Homo sapiens: one gene and its partners. The protein of the gene in region 3 interacts with the protein of the main gene of each other region in a biochemical or structural test. Each region holds a gene or a part of one and is shown on either strand. Other genes may lie near its edges.

What was found. The genes of interacting proteins can lie anywhere in the genome.
Region 1: of the proteins of CAPN2 (region 3) and TNS1, one has a biochemical effect on the other in vitro, tested with the Homo sapiens proteins (one study listed by IntAct).
Region 2: of the proteins of CAPN2 (region 3) and ATXN3, one has a biochemical effect on the other in vitro, tested with the Homo sapiens proteins (2 studies listed by BioGRID).

Annotation. Positions count from the first base shown.
Region 1 is NC_000002.12:217,999,996-218,007,504, forward strand, and holds the start of TNS1 (tensin-1), read right to left. Parts: upstream 3,001-7,509; 5' UTR 2,878-3,000; coding exon 2,845-2,877; intron 1-2,844.
Region 2 is NC_000014.9:92,082,583-92,089,582, forward strand, and holds part of ATXN3 (ataxin-3 reference isoform), read right to left. Parts: intron 6,236-7,000; coding exon 6,148-6,235; intron 922-6,147; exon of another isoform or gene 831-921; intron 677-830; coding exon 544-676; intron 1-543. UniProt on the Homo sapiens protein: Deubiquitinating enzyme involved in protein homeostasis maintenance, transcription, cytoskeleton regulation, myogenesis and degradation of misfolded chaperone substrates.
Region 3 is NC_000001.11:223,750,480-223,757,575, forward strand, and holds part of CAPN2 (calpain-2 catalytic subunit), read left to right. Parts: intron 1-410; coding exon 411-496; intron 497-1,517; coding exon 1,518-1,592; intron 1,593-2,316; coding exon 2,317-2,477; intron 2,478-5,000; coding exon 5,001-5,170; intron 5,171-6,889; coding exon 6,890-6,901; intron 6,902-7,096. UniProt on the Homo sapiens protein: Calcium-regulated non-lysosomal thiol-protease which catalyzes limited proteolysis of substrates involved in cytoskeletal remodeling and signal transduction. Proteolytically cleaves MYOC at 'Arg-226'.

The DNA.
Region 1 (7,509 bases), on a different chromosome or scaffold from region 3:
GACCAGTGAGTCCCTCTGGAAGGAAGGGCCTCCACCTCTAACTCCTCCAGCACAACATCAAAAAGCCTCAATTGCTAGGCATGCAATTATTTTCTAAATAAACCGTACTTGAATATGTAATAGCAAATGGGAGCACTTGATGAGAAAATCAAGTTATGCATAATAAATAGCTCTGCTCCTCAGCTAATAAAGTGATTTTTATTCCTAGGACTTGTTAAAACTATGCACTACAGATATATTACTTCTTAGATGACACAATTGCAGCTTTCCCCATACAGGAACATGTGAACCAATAGATGCAAGCACTCACTCTAGGGCACAAGAACTATCTCAGTCACTTCCTGGCCTCAGAGTAGCTGGTCAGAGTCCCTGGGCAGTCAGCCCAGGAGTAGAGCCCAAGGAGTAGAGCCCTGTCCCATGACACCATTCCCAGGGAGATCCTCCCCCAGCATCAGGTCTGGGATACAGAGGATCCCAAGAACCAGGCAGGAGACTGTGGAGTGGGAAAGGGGCCAGCATTTGCTGAGCACCTACTGCATGCCTACATACCTGATCTTTTGATATCTATTGTCTCTTTCCCCACCCTAGCCATACAAGGAGTATATTATTCTCTGCACTTTACAGATCAAGAAATTGAGGCTCATGAAGGGAACTGCTTTACCAAGCCTGCCCATACCAAACGATGGAAATAGGGTTTGAGCCTAGTCCTATCTGGTGCCAGGACTGCTTCCTCTGTCCAGTCCCTACTGCCCCAGTCTCTGGCCCATCCTGGCCATGGGCATCACAGCCAGCCTAGAAAGGATGGGGACTAGGAGAGGAGAGGAAAAGGAGACAGGGGAGGGACACAGGCTTTTCTAGTCTTAAAGACACTCAAGGCCAGGCGCAGTGGCTCACACCTATAATCCCAGCACTTTGGGAGGCTGAGACGGGAGGATCACTTGAGGTCAGGAGTTCGAGGCCAGCCTGGCCAACACGATGAAACCCCATCTCTACTAAAAATATAAAAAATTAGCTGGACATGTTGGCACGCACTTGTAGTCCCAGCTACTCGGGAGGCTGAGGCAGGAGAATTGCTTGGACCCAGGAGGTAGAGGTTATAGTGAGCCAAGATCATGCCATTGCACTCCAGCCTGGGTGACAGAGTGAGACTCCATCTCAATTAAAAAAAAAATGAATAAATAAAAATAAAGACACTCAAGGAAGCAGCACTCACAGCTGCCTTGGTCCCCAGACTCTTCCCCTTACTCTCAGGGAGGGTATAACACCCATAGGGCACTCTACCTGCCAGGCACTGCCCTGGGGAATTGGATACAAAATTTCATCCCTACCTCTCTGTACCCTGTTTCTCTGCAATCCTCATTTCACCAACGGGAAAGCAGAGGCTCACCAGGATGAGGCACTTTTCCCAGTATCAGTCAGCTGAAGGGATCTATAGAGCCCTCTCTCCAGTCACAGCAGCTCGTCACCCCTGGAGGTCTACCTGCCATCCTTCTTGTGTCACCCCTGGACGTCTACCTGCCATCCTTCTTGCTGCAGAGCTCCCTCCTGCCTACCTCTGTCCTCAGCACAGAGACGAACCTGGCCAAGGCTCCCATTTCCCAGATGTCAACACCAGCCCAGTAAACCACAAATGCATCCTGTGTGCAGGCCTCCCCAGTCACTCTCAATCTATTAATCCAATCCATCCCAGCACCCCAGCCCAACATGCCACCCAAACCGCCTCATTCCAGGCCCCCTCCCCCACCCTTTCTTTCTTTGCCCAGAGGACACCTGGCTGCCCGAGTTTGTGTTCCCACAACTGCCCCCAGCATGGGCTTGCCTGGGCCAAGAGGGCCCTCCCGAGGACTGGCCAGAACAAGGAAAGGGACAGGAAAGGCCACATCTGGATCACAGCCCTGAAGCCCCCTCCCCCAAACCAGCCATCACTCTCTCAGAGCCCAACAGTAACCTCAGCCAGGGACGACTTCCTCACCCTCCTGACCCCATGCATGCCTTTGCCTGGCCAAGACAGCCCCACAGGAGCCCCTCTGAGGAAGGGGTCCTCTCCTCCTCTGACCCCCAGCCCTTCTGCAGCAGGCAGCCCTCTCCCATCCCCCTTTACCCAGGAGCCTCAGCCCAGGTCTGGCCTTAAGACTTTTAACCTTCACCACGTGGCCCCCAGGCCTCTCTGCTGGCCCCCCTGGCATCCCCATCCTGAAACCCACCTCCCTGAACCTGGAGCCAAGAGAGAAAGGGGGAAGAGCGGGCCATGGCTCCCTCCTCCAGGATGGAGAGGTCTTGGTAGCAGGGGAGGGCTGTGGAGGAAGGGATGGCAGTGGGTGGAAGCTGAAACTGGGTGTAGAAGGAATAAAAGGGATGGACTCTGAGAATTCTCCCACAGCCCAGCTCTTCCAGACTTAATATTTTGGACTACTATTCTTTGCTCCCCAGCCCCACCACTGCCTCCTCCTCAAGATCTTGGGCTCAGCAACTGAGGGGGGGCGGTGAAGAATTTTCACCCCATTGTAGGATGCAAGTCGGGAGGAAAGGCTCTAAAGAGAAGCAAACTTCTCTGTGGCCTCCTTCCACTTACAGCTCTGGGACTCCATTGGGGGGTGGGGGGGTGGGGCAGGGGATGTACTGACCCGGGACCCTGGGCCTGGGCCCTGTTGGTGGGGAAAGTCTTCCGGCTGAGGGTTGCTCAAGTCAGTCTGTCCTTCTGTAGGTCAGAGACAGAAAGGCCCCTCCTTCAAGACTGACACCCCCCGACCCCGGGCTCTCAGCAAAAGGATAAGGTGGCAGGGGCCGGTGGGGGGCGGGGGGTTTGAGGAAGAGTAACGTCGCAGCTAAAGCAGCCAGACCTACCCAGAGCATGCAGGACAGACAGATCCACGTCATCTTTGCTGGGTCCCGTCACTGAGGCACGCCCAGGGCCTGTGAAGAGCCCCTGAAGCTAGAGTCCCCGCGGCGCTGGCAGAAGGGCTCTCTGAGTCCGCGGCTGCTCCGGCTCCGCCAGCATCTGCTGGGCCTCTCGCCCTGCTGCCTCCAGCTCACCCTCCCTCCTCCTCCTCCTCCCCCCACTCCACCCCTCGTCCCAGCCTCCTCTCTCCTCCCTCCTCCCAGGCTCCACCGGTGGCCTTGAGGGTCAGGAACCCTGCTTTGCAGGGGGTGTAAAGGGGACAGGGAAAAGGGAAAGCTACCAGAGGCAGGGCCCCCCCAGGCCGTGCCCCCCACCCCCGGACACACAACCCCTGTGTGCCACCAAGGCTCCTCAGTCTTCTGATCTGGTGCTGGTAGGCCTGGAGTCCTCCCTCCTCACTGCAGACCCCCGCCCCTGGCAAACCAGCCTGGGGGCCTTCACTCCTGGAACCCTCCAGACCACTGATGGATGAACAGACAGCCCCAGGCCCACACAATCAGCACACTCAGGGTGCCTTGGCCCCTCCCCTTCTCTGAGTACCCGTGCCTGCCTTCCTGGCCTCCTCGGAACACACATGCATTTGCACACACAGACTGGGACAGACTCTGGTGCCCACGCGCCAAGCTCAGAGCCCAGGACAGGCCTTAACACAGAAGAAATAGGGCCCGAGACTGGGGAAGAATGGCCCTGCCCCCAGGCTGTGGGTTTCATTCCAATTTTTTTCCTATTTCTTTTTTTTTCCCCCTTCTTTCTTTCTTTCCTGCAAACATCTGTCCCAGCCTTTCCTGCCCTTCTGAAAGGGAGCCCCGCTCCAGGCTCCCGCGAGAGTGTGTTTTTCTTGACTGTACCCGGGGCCAACATTTGGTTTGCATTTCCCCACTTCCTCCCCCTCCTCCCCTCTCCCCCTCCCTGGGCCCAGTTCTCCCCTCCCACCATTCCACAGGCCTATTTCTTCCCCTCAGTGTCCCCTGCCCACCAGCCCTCCCCTCCCCTCGCCCCCACCTCTGCCCAGGGACAATTGTTGGGGGTCTAGAGGGTGGAAAGGAGGCTGGGTCAAAACCCAAAAGTATTCCCACGGAGCACTAAGGGGGAATCCAGCAAAGTCTGCCCCAGGCCTTCATTGTCTGGAACCACCACGTTCCCCTCCAAAAAAAACCCTTCCTCTTTGAGCTCTGGCCTTGGCTGGACCAACTGAGGGTGGGTGGGGGCCAGTGAATCACCCGCTCTGTTCTTTGGAGCTGTCCAGGAGAAGGAGGGAGGGCTCAGCCCCACACCCTCCTGTGGACACACACACACACAAGGACACAGTCCAACTCACGTCAACACATAAGAGCCCTCCCAGAGTAGGCACTTGGAGACCTCGTTCCTAGACTGAGTCACTTAGCAAGAAAAGTTCTCTTGCCTGGCCTCCTATGCACACTGTGCTATACATGCCCTGGGGCCACATGCACGAAGGGTTACAGATCCCCTGCCTCCCCCCCCCACTCACCCAAGGCCATGCCATGCCGCTGTCTGTCAGCACCACATACCGTGCAACTACCAGCCTCCTCTTTCACAGGGATCTGCCCAGCCACTTGTGCCAACTCCCAGCCCAGGGACCACCCAAGACATCTACCTGGGAAACCCCAGAATGAAGGGGAAACACTGACTCTTCATCTGAAAAAAAGACTGCAGTATTCAGATACACAGGTTGTCCACAGCACAAGGGACTAACCATCTATTGTTTGGTGGTTCTGAGAAGTCAGGGGAGGACACTGAAGTGAAGTGTCAATTTCCAGCCCTTCCTAAAGCAGGTACCTGAGTGAAGAGTCTTTGTTCCGGTAGAGGAGTCAGGGTCCTCTCTCCATACTTCTCCAAGTCCTCCAGAGCTCTGGGGCTGGGAAAGATCCTGCCTCTAGTGTCCTTCCCTGCCAGGATCACAATGTCCCTCTGGACCCCCTACTCTAAGCCTCCTGGGGCTTCACTGACATTTTAGCCAACGCTGAAATGAACCAGTGTTCCACATGCAGTTGGCCCTGCAGTCACAGCTGGGGATGTCCATAGACAGAAACCTCTGCAAACCCTCCCGTCTCCCCTGGCTGGAGCACCAGGCAAGCAAAGGGGAGTGGTCTTCAGGAGGCCTCTCTGAGAGCCCCTGAGCCCCTCCTCAGCCACTATCACCAGCTCTGCCAGGCTGCCCTTGTCCCCTGACAAGTTCAAGCCTTCAGCCAGCTAAGCCCTGACATCCCAGTGCCCACTCACACCAAGCTCCCCGCTGCCTGCTCCCACAGCCCTTCACTGCTGGCGTCACTGAAGACGCCTCCAGGCAGCTTTCTCTGGAGTTCTGAGAAGTCACCTTGGGGCTTCCCAGAAATGCTGGAAAATCAAACCAAAAACCAAGTCACAGTGACACCAACTTGTCTGGCCTCCTACACAGCCCGAGGAGGCCCTGCTGCTTCCCCAGACTCCTCAGCTAGGACTGTGAATGGAAGTAGGGGACCCTAGTGCTGGGGGTTCCCTTGGAGAAACCCTCCCTCCAGAATACCCCCATCCCTCTTCTCCAAGCCTATGGGGTCTCTCCTGTATATTAATCGCTTATCATCAAGATGTCCTTCCTGCTAATTAACCACCATTTTCCCTGTTGAATGTTAAACTCTGCCGACTGAGGTGTCTCTAACTGTGTGTAATGACCCTGTTCCAGGCTTGTCAGCCTTTATTCCTCCTTCACAGCCTGGTGTCTCCACCCCAACCCACACACGGGCAAGGACGTGTCCTGTGTTTTGTATCCCCAGAGCCTGGCATACAGCAGGCACCAGACATGGTTGAAGAATGACTCAATCACTCAATCAATTAGTCAATGGATCCTAACATATTTTCCTACTGTAAGCATTCACTGCCTCCTTCCCAAACCTTCCTTCTTTTCCCTTCAAAAGGGCCTCAGGCAGCCCTGCCTGTACACTTTTGCCCACAATTTCAGTGCCACCCTATCTGCAGCCACCTCTGCCTGCTGCCAATGCCCCATTCCCAAGCTCTAGCCAGCTGCAGACTCTCCGCAGGCCTGGATGGTTTCATTCATCTTGGGATCCCCACCCTGTGCCCAGACCCCTGTCTCACACACAGCAGACATGGAGTACACACTGGAGGACTGGCTGGGGCTCTACACTGGCATCCCAGAAGCCTCAGAACCCAGCCCCAACCCTGTGCCATCCCCATTTCTGCCTTCCCGCTGCATGCGGAGACCTCCCTCCGCTCATCCCTCCAGCCCCCTGCTCAGCAGCCAGCTGAAGAAACAGAGTCAGGTCTGTGGGCTGTGGTGCTGGCCCTGGGGCTGGAGGAGGGTGGAGCCAAGGCAGAAGGAAGGGTGAGTGTGGTCAGGAATGAGCTAATGGCCTTAGAGCCTGAGCCTGGCAGGCCCCTCCCTGGGCCTCAGTTTCCTTTACCTGTAGAATAACAGGACTGATGGCCTCCAAGGTCCCTTCCAGCTCCACCTTCTGCGATGACACGAGTTTCCCAGGCCAAGGCCCCAGCCCCATCCAATTCACTCTTCCTTTCCTTTGACTCTTGTCCACCAAAATATTCTTACTGATGTCCACCCCTCTCCTACCAGGGCGTTAAGCCTTTCCTTTGTCACCACTGGTCACAGCATCTGAAGGTAACAGAGCATTTTAAAGCTGGAAAGGTCTTCAAGCTCAGCTGCCCAGGGGTCACGGTAACAGCCTTTGGGGGTCACCTAGAAGTTCAATGAGGGGAGCGGGCAAGGGGTCACAAGGGCCTGGTGAGGACAGGCCCCAGCTGAGGGGGATGCCCACTCCTTGGTTCCCCACTACAGCATGCAGCAACACAAGCCCACATCTCCACATGTTTTGATCTGCCATAGAACCCTCAACTCCATATTTTATATAAAATATTTTTACAAAATTGAAAAAATACAAATTTGAAAGTGTTGGCTTAAAAAAAAACCACTCTGAAGGTCCAAGCGAATGTGTTTGCCAGGAGGGTTAGTCTCAGGGCACCGCTAGCCTAATCCAGCCCCCTTGCTTAACAGACAGCCACACTGCGTCAAGAAAGGTGGCGTGACTCATCAGAGGTCACAGAGCCCATAAAAAGCAGAGATCCAGTCTCTCAGTTCCCAGACCCTGGATTTTTTCCCTAAACCCTGCAGCCTGCCACCTCTCACAATGGGGCCACTCACACTGCAGCCTTCCTCCCAGACCATCCTGAGGGGCCCACATCCAACAGGTAAGGGCAGACCTGGCAATGGGGTTCTTCACCAGTGTCCAGGTAAAGATCCCAACAGCACGAGACCCAGGAATCTACACCAAAGCACTCAGCTCCTGGACCTCCACCCTCTCAGCCCCTCAGATTCTGGTATTCTCCCCCTTCCCCAGGAAAGATTAATACCAATTAACTAGGCACTTGGCTTGCTGCATTGTCTTGAAGGCTCCTACTAACCCTCATTTTGTAAATGCAGAAACTGAGGCACATAGAGGTTCAGCAACCAGCTCAGGGTCACACAGCTAGTATGATGTGTGAAAATGGAGCTCAGGTCATCTGATTCCACATCTCCCATGGATGGAGAATGTTCTTACAGCAATACGGCCACCCCAGGACTAGGGGCTATGCTTCCATGT
Region 2 (7,000 bases), on a different chromosome or scaffold from region 3:
AATAAGCTCTAGTAATATAATGATTGTGTTGCAATTTGAATCCAACTAAGTTTTTTTTTTCCGTTTCTTTTTTTTTTTTTTTTTGAGACAGGGTCTGACTCTCTCGACCAGGCTGGAGTGCGGTAGTGTGATTATGGCTCACTGTAGTCTCTACCTCCCCAGTTTCAGGTGATCCTTCTTCCTCTGCCTCCCAAGTAGCTGGGACTATAGGCATACACCACCACATCTGGCTAATTTTTGTACTATTTGTAGAGATGAGGTTTTGCCATGTTGCCCAGGCTGGTCTCGAACTCCTGGGTTGAAGCAATCAGCCTGCCTCAGCCTCCCGAAGTGCTAGGAATATACCATACCAGCTAACTAAGTTAATATATTTAAGTATTTCAAAGAGTTGATTCAAGTTTAAACTAATAAACTTCACTAAAATATAAGGTCCAAAATAGAGTCGCCAACAACACAAGGACCACATATTCAATCTAAGCATGAAAATTTAATTCTCATAATGAAATACTACCATATATTCCATACTGCAGGCCTCATTTTTACCTTTGCTCTTTTAGTTGTGCTAATTCTTCTCCAATAAGTTTTGGTCGATGCATCTGTTGGACCCTAATCATCTGCAGGAGTTGGTCAGCTTCGCAATCTGGCAGATCACCCTTAACGACAAATATAGAATAACCTAAAAAAAAAAGGCAAAAATCAACCTAACCAGTTAGTAAAGAGATTCAAAATTGATGTAAAACACTAGTAGATAAAAAGGCAGCACAGAACACTGGAAAAAAATACAAGCTGAGGATTCAGAAAGACTTTAGTCCAAATAATGATTCTTATACTTACTAGTAAAGTCGTCTAAGGTAAGTTACTTAAAGTCTCTGAGCCTCACTTTCTCCATTGTAAGACTGGAAGAGCCGTCTCATTGAGTGACTGTGAGAAATAAATATGTCTGTAAAGGGCCCTACTAATATAGTACTTGACTGAGCAGGCTACTCACTTACTGTTGTCAGAGTGGGTAACAGCAACTGATTTAGAATCAGACTGCCTGCATCTGATCCCAGTTCTCCCACTTCCTAGCTGCATTTGTCTTGGTTTCTACTGTTAAACATATGATACTAGTACCTTCCTGTGATGGTTAATATTATCAACTTGATTGGATTGAAGGCTACAAATTATTGTTTCTGGGTGTGTCTGCGAGGGTGTTGCCAAAGGAGATTAACATTTAAGCCAGTGAACTGGGAGAGGTAGACCCACCCTCAAACTGGGTGGTCACCATCTAATCAGCTGCCAGCTCAGCTAGAATAAAGCAGGCAGAAATAAGAGTGTGGAAGTACTAGACTTGCTGAGCCTTCATCTTTCTCCCATGCTGGATGCTTCCTGCCCTCAAACATCAGACTCCAAGTTCTTCATCTTTTGGACTCTTGAACTTACACCAGTGGTTTGCCAGGGGCTCTCAGGCCTTTTGCCACAGACTGAAGGCTGCACTGTCAGCTTCCCTACTTTTGAGGTTTTGGGACTTGGACTGGCTTCCTGGTTCCTCAGCCTGCAGAGAGCCTATTGTGGGACTTCACCTTGTGATCATACGAGTCGATACTCCTTAATACATTACCCTTCATATATACATCTACCTTATTAGTTCTGTCCCTCTAGAGAACCCTAATACACTTACTCACAGGGCTGCTGTGAGGACACAGATAATGTGTGCAATAACTAGTAACATGGCTAAAACTAATCATCTGCGGAAAGAGCTACCCCCACCCTGACCCACACATGTACACCCCTTGTAACTAAAAATAGGGGCTGGGAAGCCAAATACCTAAAAGCTATTTAAGGTGTCAAACGTGTGGTTTGCATCCCAAAAGAATTACATTAGTCTAGTGTGACTGTGTCTAAATATGATTCCAGAAATCCAGGGTTTCCCCAAGCTAGATGCTACACACAAAAACCAAGGATGGGCTATACCTAAAACAATCTAACTGATTTAAGTTTCTCTATCATTAATTTTTTTTTTTTTTTAATTTGAGATGGAGTCTCACTCTGTCACCCAGGCTGGAGTGCAGTGGTGCAATATTAGCTCACTGCAACCTCTGCCTCCCAGGAGGTTCAAGCGATTCTCCTGCCTCAGCCTCCTGAGTAGCTGGGATTACAGGCACCCACCACCACACCCAGTTAATGTTTGTATTTTTAGGAGAGGCAGGGTTTCACCATGTTGGCTGGGCTGGTCTCGAACTCCTGACCTCAGGTGATCTGCCCACCTCGGCCTCCCAAAGTGCTGGGATTACAGGTGTGAGCCACCGCGCCTAGCACATTTTTCTTAAACTTTGGTGTTTGTTATTGGATATCCTTTGTTGGATTAACACATAATGGGACAAAGATTATAAGAACTATTAATGGAAAACCTCAAAATAGTATGTTGAACATTTTTTATGAGGACAACTGTATTCAGAGTTTAGACGGTTTAATGTGTTTTCTGCCAGTAAAATTGTTTCTGTATTGTATAATAAATATGCCAGCTCACCATGGTATTCTATGAAGAGTGTCTGAAGAATGGATACTCTGCCCTGTTCAGGGGCCATGGTAAAGATCTTGGGTTTTATTCAAGACTTCACATATTTTTTTTTTTTAATTTTTTTTTGAGAGTCTCGTTCTGTCACCCAGGCTGGAGTGCAGTGGTATGATCTTGGCTCGCTGTAACCTCTGCCTCCCGGGTTCAAGTGATTCTCCTATCTCAGCCTCCCGAGTAGCTGGGACTACAGGTGCACAACACCACACCCAGTTAATTTTTGTATTTTTTGGTAGAGACAGGGTTTCACCATGTTGGCCAGGCTGGTCTCATCAACTCCTGACCTCAAGTGATCTGCCCCCTCATCCTCCCAAAGTGCTGGGATTGCAGGCATGAGCCACCAAGCCCGGCCTAAGACTTCAGATTTTATTCTAAGTGTGCTGGGAAGCCACTGAAGGACAAAGAGTGAGGGTGGGACATAACAGGCCTTACACTGGTTAAGAAGCACTCTGGGCTGCTCTGTCGGTATAATATATAGGAACCAGAGTACAAGAGTCACCCTTATGGAAATGGAAAACCTGATGGATAGCATGGATAGAGAGAAAAAAATAAGTCTTTCATAGACATGTTCAGTTTGAAACACTTTTTGGATTTCCAAGTGGAGATGCCAAAGCTAGGAGTTAGTCAAAGCTAGGTGTTCAGGGTAGATGTCAAGACTAAAGATAAAAGTTTGGTAATTATTGACACATAGATCTTATTTACAGATGATATTTAAGATCCATGAAAGGAATCTGAAAAGTGCAGGCAGCAAGTTAGGAAAACCACAGCATGGTGGGCTGAAGGCCAAAGGTAGACAGGGTTTCTAAGAAGGGATATCATCAGGAACCAAGGTTTTAAATATAAAAGAAAAAAGATACAAGTATCTAAAATCAAAGAATTAAAAACCCTATATTCCTAAATGTGAATTCACAATAACTACATAACAAACCCAGCAGCAATAAGCATGCCAGCACTCAAATTGTGATCTCCAAATACCATTACTAAAAGATGGCTAGGCAAGGTGACTCACGCCTGTAATCCCAGCACTTTGGGAGGCTGAGGCAGGTGGATCACTCGAGGCCAGGAATTCGAGACCAACCTGGCCAATATGGTGAAACCCTGTCTCTACTAAAAATACAAAAAAAAAAAAAAAAAATTTAGCCGGGGCCAGGCGCAGTGGCTCATGCCTGTAATCCCAGCACTTTAGGGGGCCGAGGTGGGCGGCTCACCTGAGGTCAGGAGTTGGAGACCAGCCTAACAAACATGGAGAAACCCCTTCCATCTCTACTAAAATACAAAATTAGCCAGGCATGGTGGCACATGCCTGTAAATCCAGCTACTCGGGAGGCTGAGGCAAGAAAATCGCTTGAACCCAGGAGGCAGAAGTTACGGTGAGCCGAGATCACGCCATTGCACTCCAGCCGGAGCAACAAGAGGGAAACTCCATCTCAAAAAAAAAAAAAAAAAATTAGCCGGTCATGGTGGTGCACGCCTGTAATCCCAGCTACTCGGGAGGTTGAGGCAGGAGAATCGCTTGAACCCAGGAGGCAGAGTTCAAGAAAAGGAGAAGGCACACTAGAGACAATCCTAAGGAAAAAATAAAAATGGGGAGGCAGCTGGAGTTTCATGGAATTAAGAGAGGATTTTTATTTTTAATCAATGGAAATAAAAAGCTTATTTTACTGCTTATAGGAATATTACAAAAAAAGGGGGGGGGAACTGATTATATAAGAGAGTGGAGAGATGAAAGCAGGAACATCTTGAGTAGGTGAGAAGAGCTGGGATCCAGCCCACAAGTGAGGGACTGGTTTTGGTTAGAGGTAGGGGACCATTCATCTATTTAAATAGGCTCAAAGCACAGGTGAAGATATAAGCAAATTGATAAATTTGCTGGTAGAAAGAACATAATTTTAATTGCTTCTATGTTCTCAGCAGAATGTAACGGAAAGCCACAAGGAAGGTGTGTAAGGGAGAGGAAAGTGCTTAAAGGTTTAAAGACATAAGCTGTGAAATTAGTCACCTTGGAGGGTGGCACATTATTTTTTATAAACTTCTTGGAGAGTGGTACATAATTTTTTATAAACACCTTGGAGGGTGGTACATCACTAAGAAAACATAGTAGAAATATCAGACAGCACTAAAGGCTCATCTGAATTTTGTGATTATAATAAATTTAAAGTAAAACCTTAGCTAGGTGTGGTAGCACAAGCCTGTAGTCCCAGCTACTCAACAGGCTAAGGCAAGAGAATCACTTGAGCCCAGGAGTTTGGAGCTGCAATGAGCTGTGATTATGCTGCTGCACTCCAGCCTGGGCTTCAGAAATAGGCCTAGTCACTTTGATAGATGGATGGGTGAATGGATGGATAGATCATTTAAGAAAAAAGTAAAACCAATCATCATGTTTTATGTTATTTTTTAGCCACGTCCAGCTACTCTGGTACAGGAATGGACAAGGCCAAGATGTGGTTTAACCAGGGTTGAGATTTTTGTCATTCAAGTATGATGGAGGGAGAGAGGGGAAACACGTTGAAGAATGCAATGGAGTGATTATGATGACGGATTACAGAAAATAAGCAGTAGAAGAAAGGAAGAATGCGTATAAAGGAAATGCTTGGGCCCCACAGTAGGGTTTAAAGAATGGCTGGAATAAAAAAACAGACAAAACATGGTTTAAAGATAGGAGGTGGTAGTTAAAGAGTAATATGCTTGCAATTGAGATTTGACAGTGGTTATGATTACTGGTAATAGCTAAGCAAGAGTAAGTGATTTTGAAACTAAGAGGCAGGTACTGGATTGATTGACGATACAGAAATAATTAAGAATGATAAAAGTAGTTGAAGTAGAGAAAAAGACAACGAGTCAGATCCTAAAATCACTGATGAAAAGAGACTTGTGGATGAGTGCAAAAGGACAAGGGATAGTTTAATCTAGGGGCATGTATTTCTTTTTTTTTTCTTTTCTTTTTTTTTTTGAGACGGAGTCTCGCTCTGTCGCCCAGGCTGGAGGGCAGTGGCGCGATCTCAGCTCACTGCAAGCTCCGCCTCCTGGGTTCACGCCATTCTCCTGCCTCAGCCTCCCGAGTAGCTCGGACTACAGGCGTCCGCCACCACACCCCGGCTAATTTTTTGTTATTTTTAGTAGAGACAGGATTTCACCGTGTTAGCCAGGATGGTCTCGATCTCCTGACATCGTGATCCGCCTGCCTCAGCCTCCCAAAGTGCTGGGATTACAGGCGTGAGCCACCGTGCCCAGCCGTTAGGGGCATGTATTTCAAAGAAACTGGAGTTTATAAGGAAGAACAGTGGCCTAGAAGAGGCAAAGAAGAAAAACATCTATCCCTCCTCTCAGCCGTGTGATATGTGATGTATAAAAGAAAAAGCCATTACTTAGAAGGGCTGCAAAGAAAGCAGCATCCTCAGAAGAGGAAGGGCCAGGTGTCAGTGAGAACTCTAACTGAACAGCGTCACCCAAATCACAGCCTATCACCACGTCAAAACTAAAGATTGTTTCACTGCCACTGCCAGAAAAACAGTTTTATCACACTGTCATCTAATGTGCCTGGTTATTTAACTACTTCGAAAGGTAACATTACAAAATGTTCAGCCGTTACTTACCTTCCTGTTGTAATTGAGCCAAGAAAAGTGCAAGATATGTATCTGATATTAATTCTGGACCCGTCAAGAGAGAATTCAAGTTAAACCACTGGAAAAAAATTGTCAATATTTAAGTTAGTGTATATTATAGGTAATAAGGAAGTTTCACATGTTAAGAATAGATACAACCCATCAAAGCTTAGTAAGATTGTTTAAACTCTGGAAATATTTCAAGTTGAGCTCTTTTCTTTGACTGAATAATATGATCTTAAAAACTACAAGAGAATACTGCAGATTTATCACTATTAAATACTTTTTTTTTTTTTTGAGAAGAGTCTCACTCTGTAACCCAGGCTGGAGTGCAGTGGCATGATCTCGGATCACTGCAACCTCTGCCTCCCAGGTTCAAGTGATTCTCCTGCCTCAGCCTCCCAAGTAGCTGGGACTACAGGTCTGCACCACCACACCCAGCTAATTTTTGTATTTTTAGTTAGAGACAGCACATTTGCCACATTGGCCAGGCTGGTCTCAAACTCCTGACCTCAAATGATCCGCCCGCCTCAGCCTCCCAAAGTTCTGGGATTACAAACATGAGCCACTGCACCTGGCCTCTGCTAAATACTCTTTTTTTTTTTTTTTTTTTTTTTTTAGACAGAGTATTGCTCTGTCGCCCAGGCTGGAGTGCAGTGGCGCGATCTCGGCTCACTGCAAGCTCCGCCTCCCGGGTTCATGCCATCCTCCTGCCTCAGCCTCCCGAGTAGCTGGGACTACAGGCGCACGCCGCCACACCCAGCTATTTTTTTGTATTTTTAGTAGAGACAGGGTTTCACCATGTTAGCCAGGATGGTCTTGATCTCTTGACCTTGTGATCCGC
Region 3 (7,096 bases):
CACCCCAACCCCATCCAGGACTCAATCCAGATTCACTCACTGCATGTGCCTGTTATCACCAGTGATCTTTCAACAAATGGTAAAGCTTCTCTGAGCTCCTTTACCAAAAGCGCATCCTGTCAGTTAAGCTGAAGTTCAGAGATGAAGCACCAACAGCCCCATCCTCGAGAGCCGGATCCTGGGAGCTTTAAATCTCATTTTCCAAAGCTAGGCAGCAGTGAGAGGTCTGGGTGCCAAGCCCCCTCTAGCTCTTGTGATCCTCCCTCATACATGGACTCAACCCCCAAATCCTCCCCACCGTCCTCAGCCCCATACCTCCTGGCTCATGCGGAAGGGGGTTGGAGGCCCAAGCCTTCATAGCCCTGACTTGAACTCAACCTCTTACTCCTCCCTTTTATCTAATCCTGCAGGTTGAAAGTAACGGAAGCCTACAGAAACTGATCCGCATCCGAAATCCCTGGGGAGAAGTGGAGTGGACAGGGCGGTGGAATGACAAGTGAGGAGGGCGCAGGCCTCGGGGCCCCAGGCGGGGGTGCATTGTGCTGGGAGGCTCTGGGAAGAGGGCGAGAGAAGAAGACATGTGCATTATTCTGAGAAATATAGCCAGGAGAGCCCAGGCCACGTGGACAGGGACCCGTGGACAGGGGCCCCTCAAAGGGTCTTTTAACCAGGACACTCCTCCAGCAGCCTGAGTGCCTTCTTCCAGGCCCCAAGCTGCTCGTGTGAAGTTCATTCCTGCCACTGCCTCCAGGTTCACCCCTTCCCTAGCTCAAATCCACCCTTCTATGGGGCTTTCAGGGAAAAAAATACACCCCACCTTCCCCCAGGCACTTCTATTACAGGGATGTGAACTTTGTACCAAAGGCCAGAGAAACATCCCTCTGTTGATTTCCAGGGCTTACTGGTAGGCATGTTGAACCCTCAACTATTTGGGGTAAACACTTGTTTGTACATCTGCTGTGGCAACCTCAGCCTACTTGCTCTGCCTCAGGTTGGAGAGGTGGGCAGTACAGAGGCCTGTGTGTAATTCCAGCCAAAGCTCAGGCAGTGGTTAGTTTACCCTGTGCACTGCCCCTGTGTACAGGGCCAGGTCCTTCTGCTCCGTGGACAGAGAGACACCTGCTGAGGCTTCCCAGGCCTCAGCCGGAGGCTCCTCATCAGATCTTCAGTTGTCTCTAAAAGAGCTGCCAGGCCCATCTCAATTGGGCAACTGCTCTGAGCTACTCCATCTCCCTCTAATGAACTATGTTCATTTTCTGGACTCTTCCTTGCCACTGTCTTCCAGCACAACTCACCCGCTCACTTTGCTCCCTGGTTTGCATCTGTATAGTGTTCTATACTCTTTAAAGTGCTGTAAGAGTATTAAAATGCAGCTGTTAGCCAGATGTGGGCTACTTTCCCCCTTTCTGGAGCCTGAGCCCTCAGAGGTGAGAGCAGATGTCCCTCTTCCTCAACTCTGGGGCCTTTGGGGAGAAATCATCGTACACTAACGCCTCTCTCTTTACTTTGTTTTCCAGCTGCCCAAGCTGGAACACTATAGACCCAGAGGAGAGGGAAAGGCTGACCAGACGGCATGAAGATGGAGAATTCTGGTAAGATTAGTGGAGGCTTCAGGGAAAGCTCTGTCTGCCCCAATGTTCTTTACTAGAAAACTGCTAATTAGAAAGAGTGTCGGCCAAAGTGAGTTTACCATGTCGAGGACACAAGCGTGTGGGATCCTGGTTTTGTTATTTTAAGTTCACTATAAGAGCCTGAATAAAGAAATTCTTAAGCCCCTTCAACGGTCCATCTTGACAATGGGGTTTATAAGCTGAGCAGCTTCAGAAAAAGGCTAAGAGGAATTCCTTTGGTAATGTTCAGATCCCAGGAAACAAGGGAAAGATGGGGCCTTTCTCCCCCAGGTTCCGGAGACTCATCCCAGCCCCTTAAGAAACTGGTCCCTTAGTGAGCAGCAATGGACCCACATGTCTGTGTGTCTGCGCCACTCTATAACCACCTGCACCTGGACACAACATGCTCTTTATCAAATGGGGCCCATATATTGTCACATTTGATGGGCACGGCTCCCATTTTTGCAGGTGAGAGTTCTGAGCTTCAGAGAAGTTTAAGTAACCTGCTCAAAGTCACCCAGCTAGAAAGTTGCAGCGCCAGGACTGGAATCTGGGCCTTCTGATTCTGAACCTGGTGCCCATCCACTCAGTTCTAATGAGCTGCTCTGCCTGGCTTTGGGTGGCTCCTGGTCTGGTGTTGGTGGAAAGTCAAGGCTTACCAGTGTGTCTTCTTATCACCTGTGATGATTGTCTCTGCTTTTGCCAGGATGTCTTTCAGTGACTTCCTGAGGCACTATTCCCGCCTGGAGATCTGTAACCTGACCCCAGACACTCTCACCAGCGATACCTACAAGAAGTGGAAACTCACCAAAATGGATGGGAACTGGAGGCGGGGCTCCACCGCGGGAGGTTGCAGGAACTACCCGAGTAAGGGCTGTTGCATATAAGGGCTGTTGCAATGCGGGGCCACCAAAGGCCAAAGCTCCCCTTACCCCACCCTGTGTACCACACCCCAGCCTAGCAGCCCCAGGAGGCAGCTCCTGCTCACTGGAACCCTCTCTGTCTTCTTTCTCCCTGAGCCTTTTCTTTTCCCTGAGCCTTTTCTCCCCGAGCTCTCTTTCTCAATCCCTTACCTCCTGCCCTACCCAGGACAAACCCAAGAGCCACTGTTTCTGTGATGTCCTCTCCAGGCCCTAGATTCCCCAGCGCCCATCATGACCTTCAGCCTGACCTTCCGCCATGCTCACGGAAGCAGTGCTCAATCCCACTTCACGGCCATGAGCTGCTCTATGCACCCCACACCCAGGCAGCCGAGCCTACAAGGGAACCTTGTCCCGGCACCCAGGGAGCCCTCCACATATCAGGCCCTGTTTGTTGCCCCATACTCACTTCAATCAGCAAATGTTGACTGGGCGCTGCCCAGATGGGGTGAAGATTTCTCCTCTGGTCCAGCCTTTGTTGAGCCCCTTGATTCTTCTGCCTTCATGGCTTAGTCCGTCAGCAGTTGTCTGAACATGATGACATCTGCCAATTATGGGGCACACCTTCAGTGCTTGGAACTATCCTAAGTGTTTTGTACACAGGGTGAGGATCCATAATCTGAAAATGTGAAATCTGAAATGCTCCAAAATCCAAAACTTTTTCAGCCCCAACATGATACCACAGGTGGAAAATTCGACACTTGACCTCAGGTGACAGGTCGCAGTCAAAACACAGTCAAAACTTTGTTTCATGCACAAAATTATTTTAAATATGCTATAGAATTACCTTCAGCCTATGTGTATAAATTATATATGAAACAGAAATGAGTTTTGTCATTAGACTTGAGTTCCATCCCTAAGATATGTTATGTATATACAAATATTCCAAAATCCAAAAAAATCCAAAATAGGAAACACTTCTGGCCCCAGGAATTTCAGATAAGGGATATTCAGCCTGCATAACATTCTATCTAACCTTCCCAACAAACTTCTGAGGCAGGCACTTTCTTATCACCTCCATCTCTAAGATGAGGAAACTGAGGCTTGGAGAGGCTAGTGACTTGCTGAAGGCCACAGAGCGTGCTGGGATTTGAACCCAGGCCCCCTGACTGAGGAGTCACTGTGTAAGTACAGTGGCAGCAGATCATGGTCACATAGTGATTCTCTGTGACAGATGAGGAAGCTGAGCCTCTAAGTCGCATACCAGGGCCACAGAGCAAGTAGTCAGACTGCGGCTAGCTGGCCTACAGTTCTGGGGCTCGGACTCCTTCACCTCAAGTATGCAGCCACCAAGTGGCAGTCCCAGAGGCGCTGGGAAGGCCCTCTGCCCCCCACAAGGGACCCCTCCTACCCACTAGATCAGGAGTCGGAAAACTCCCTCTAAAGGGTCAGATAGTAAATAATTTTGGCTTTGTGGGCCACTCAGTCTCTATAACAACAACTCTATTGCTATAACCCAAAGGCAGCCATACTTAAGCGAATGGCCGTGGCTACGTTCCAATAAAACGTTATTTACAAAAACAGGCAGCGGCCTTCGGAGCCATAGCTGCCAACCCCTACACAAGATGGTGCCTGTAATTTCACAGTTAGGGTTTTATCCCATTAGGTATGGAAAGGCAATTAGCATAATTCCCCTTAAACATGAATGAATCTTAGATTTTTTAAATAAATAGGTTTTGGAAGTAAAGAGGGCAGAGACATCAGGAGCAGGGCAAGGGAATAGGCCTGAGAGGACAAGGGACGCAGAACAAGAAAGAGTCTGGAATTATACACAGGATGTTCTTGGCCTCCGGGCTCACCGAGGGGGCGGCGACCGGCAAGTGCAGGGAGCAGATCCCGGAGTCCCCCAGGCCAGCCGAGCCCCGCCCCAGGCTCCCCATCAGAGCCCAGTGAAGAGAAGGTACCATGAGGGGAAGCCACAGCTCTAACCACCCTGCGTTCCAGAGTGACAGACCAGTCCCCAAGACAAGCCAGCCTGGAGCCAGAGAGAGAACTGCAAGAGAAAGTTTCTAATTTAGGTTCCTGTTAGATTCAGACAAGTGCAGGTCATCCTCTCTCCACAGCTACCGTCACCCGTCTCCAGCCTAACAAAGCCTGCAGTCCACACTCCAACCCTGGTGTCTCCCACCTCCTAGCCTCTCCCAACATCGCCTGCCGTCTCTGACCATCTTCTGCCATCCTCTGCCATCTCCCACCATCTCCCACTGTCTCCCACAGCCTCCCACCGCCTCTTGCCAACTCCCACCATCTCCCGCCATTTTCTGACATCTCCCGCTGTCTCCCACCATCTTCTGCCATACTCTGCCATCTCCCACCATCCCCCACCACCTCTTACCATCTCCCACCACCTCCCACCATCTCCCTTTATCTCCATCCCTCTCAGAAGCCTCCAAGCCTGAGACCAGGGCCACCCCCCACCCCCATGCATTCCTGCTCAGGGCTGGGCTCCTCTGCCCCTTTCTGGCTGCAGACACATTCTGGATGAACCCTCAGTACCTGATCAAGCTGGAGGAGGAGGATGAGGACGAGGAGGATGGGGAGAGCGGCTGCACCTTCCTGGTGGGGCTCATTCAGAAGCACCGACGGCGGCAGAGGAAGATGGGCGAGGACATGCACACCATCGGCTTTGGCATCTATGAGGTGCAGAGCGCAGGGGCTCCTGCCCTCCCTTCCCCATGTGTTCATCTCAGCCCCTGCATGGAAAGCTGACCCCAGAGGCAGAACTGGGGATGGGATCCCAGACCGGGAGCTTGGCCAAGGAAAAACAAAACTACCAGCCTGGCCAGGCTCAGGAGTAGCCCCCGTAGGGAGGCCCCTGCAGTGGCTCTGGGTTGTGGGGCCTTCTAAGCCCTTCACGGGCCCCCCACAGCCAGCCTGCAGGGAGTTCCACTCTCAAATGGCCTCCACATCCCTTCTCACATCCTCCAGGCCTGGCATTCTGGTCAGCCTACCCATCTTCAAAGAACAGAATATACTGGGCCACATCAGGCAATACTGTGAGGGCAGGACTGAGTCCATGGGTGCAGCTGCTCAGAGCTCGGCAAAGTCATTGGCCTGGATGGTGGAGAGCTTGGGGACAGGGGAACATTGGTCATGATGCTCCCCCCAGGGCTCTGATGGCTGGAGCCCAGATCCCTACACAGACTCCTGCTGTATGCGTGTTTTCCTTTCACTCTGAGCCACAGCCAGAGGGCAGCCGCATTGCAGTCTCCTCTCCGCCCTCAGGCTGGGGCTGGGGCACTGAGAACTCACCCAACACGCTGGGCCCCTGGGCTCTCCCCACTCCCTTCTGCAAAACAAGAAAGAGCTTTCGTGGGCTGCAGGTAGCCATGCGAGGAGAGGGATGAAAGGAAGGCTTTAGGGCACTGACTGGGGATGCATTTCGGTTTGATGGGCTGGAGCTGGCTCCTCCCGGCTCCCAAAGCCCATCTCTTTTCTCTGACCCATGTCTGCTGAGGTCCTTCAGCAGCCTGAAAAATGGCCCTGGCAGGGACCTGTTTACACCATGGAAAGTGGCAAATAGTACAAATCAGAGCTTCCACCCTCTCCCAAGAGCCAGTTTCCCAGCACACCCCTGGGAGAATCCAGACGAGGTGTCAGGAGAGGAGGCTCTGTGCTCACCACTGGCAACGTTGCCACCCATGGAACACTGACTTCTACCTGCTCACCCACCTGAGAAAGGCAGCTGGGCAAATACCATCAGTTGTAAAAATGCACATAGGCCTAAACCCCTCCGTCTCTGAAACAGGAGCTGAGGACTTCGGATCTGGGACAGAATCGATCCAAGGACAATGCAAATGGAATTGTGATACACAGCTTCCCTCCCACCGGCTTATGGGCTTGGAAATGCAGCCACGGGCTTTCAGAGTTGGGACGGACCTTGGGGATCACTGGGTCCTATTTTTGAGACAAGAAAACTGAGGCCAGAGAGGAGAGGGGACTTGCTCAAGGAAATGCAGACCGGACCACTGGACCTGGCTGACAGAGGCCGGCACTGCTGGCTCCTAGCCCCAGGTGTATTTCACCTCGCCTGCTGCCTCCTCCAACAGGGCCCGCCTGGCCCTCTTTCCCTGCGTGGGAGGCCGATATGGGCTTTGCCACCTTAGACAAGTCTCTTCACATCTCCATGCCTGAGATTTATACTCTAAGTTAGGAAGGGAGGTGAGGGCTTATCAACATAAGAGGATTTTCTTCAGTGTTGGAGAGGCTTTGAGTTCCTTGGAAAACAGTTACTCGGTTGAATTAGTTGATATTGCTAATGCTACAGAGAAAACGGGGGCAGCGGAAGAGAAGAGCACAGTGATGCATTTTCTTACACTGCTTTTCCGGCATCTGAATTGCATCTCCTTTATTTTGCAGGTTCCAGAGGAGGTACGTCTGGCCCATGTCCCGGGGTGCTCAGGTCACCAAAAAAGCGAGAGGCTTAGACTGCTGGAGCTCAGGGAGCGTCGTGAAGCCCGGGCAGGGGCTGGTGGTCATGAAGGATGAGTCCTGGCCACCCCTGGGGCCCTGCTGAAGTTGCCCAGGCTCTAGATCCCACTGGTCTAAGCTCTGGGCAAGGTTTCT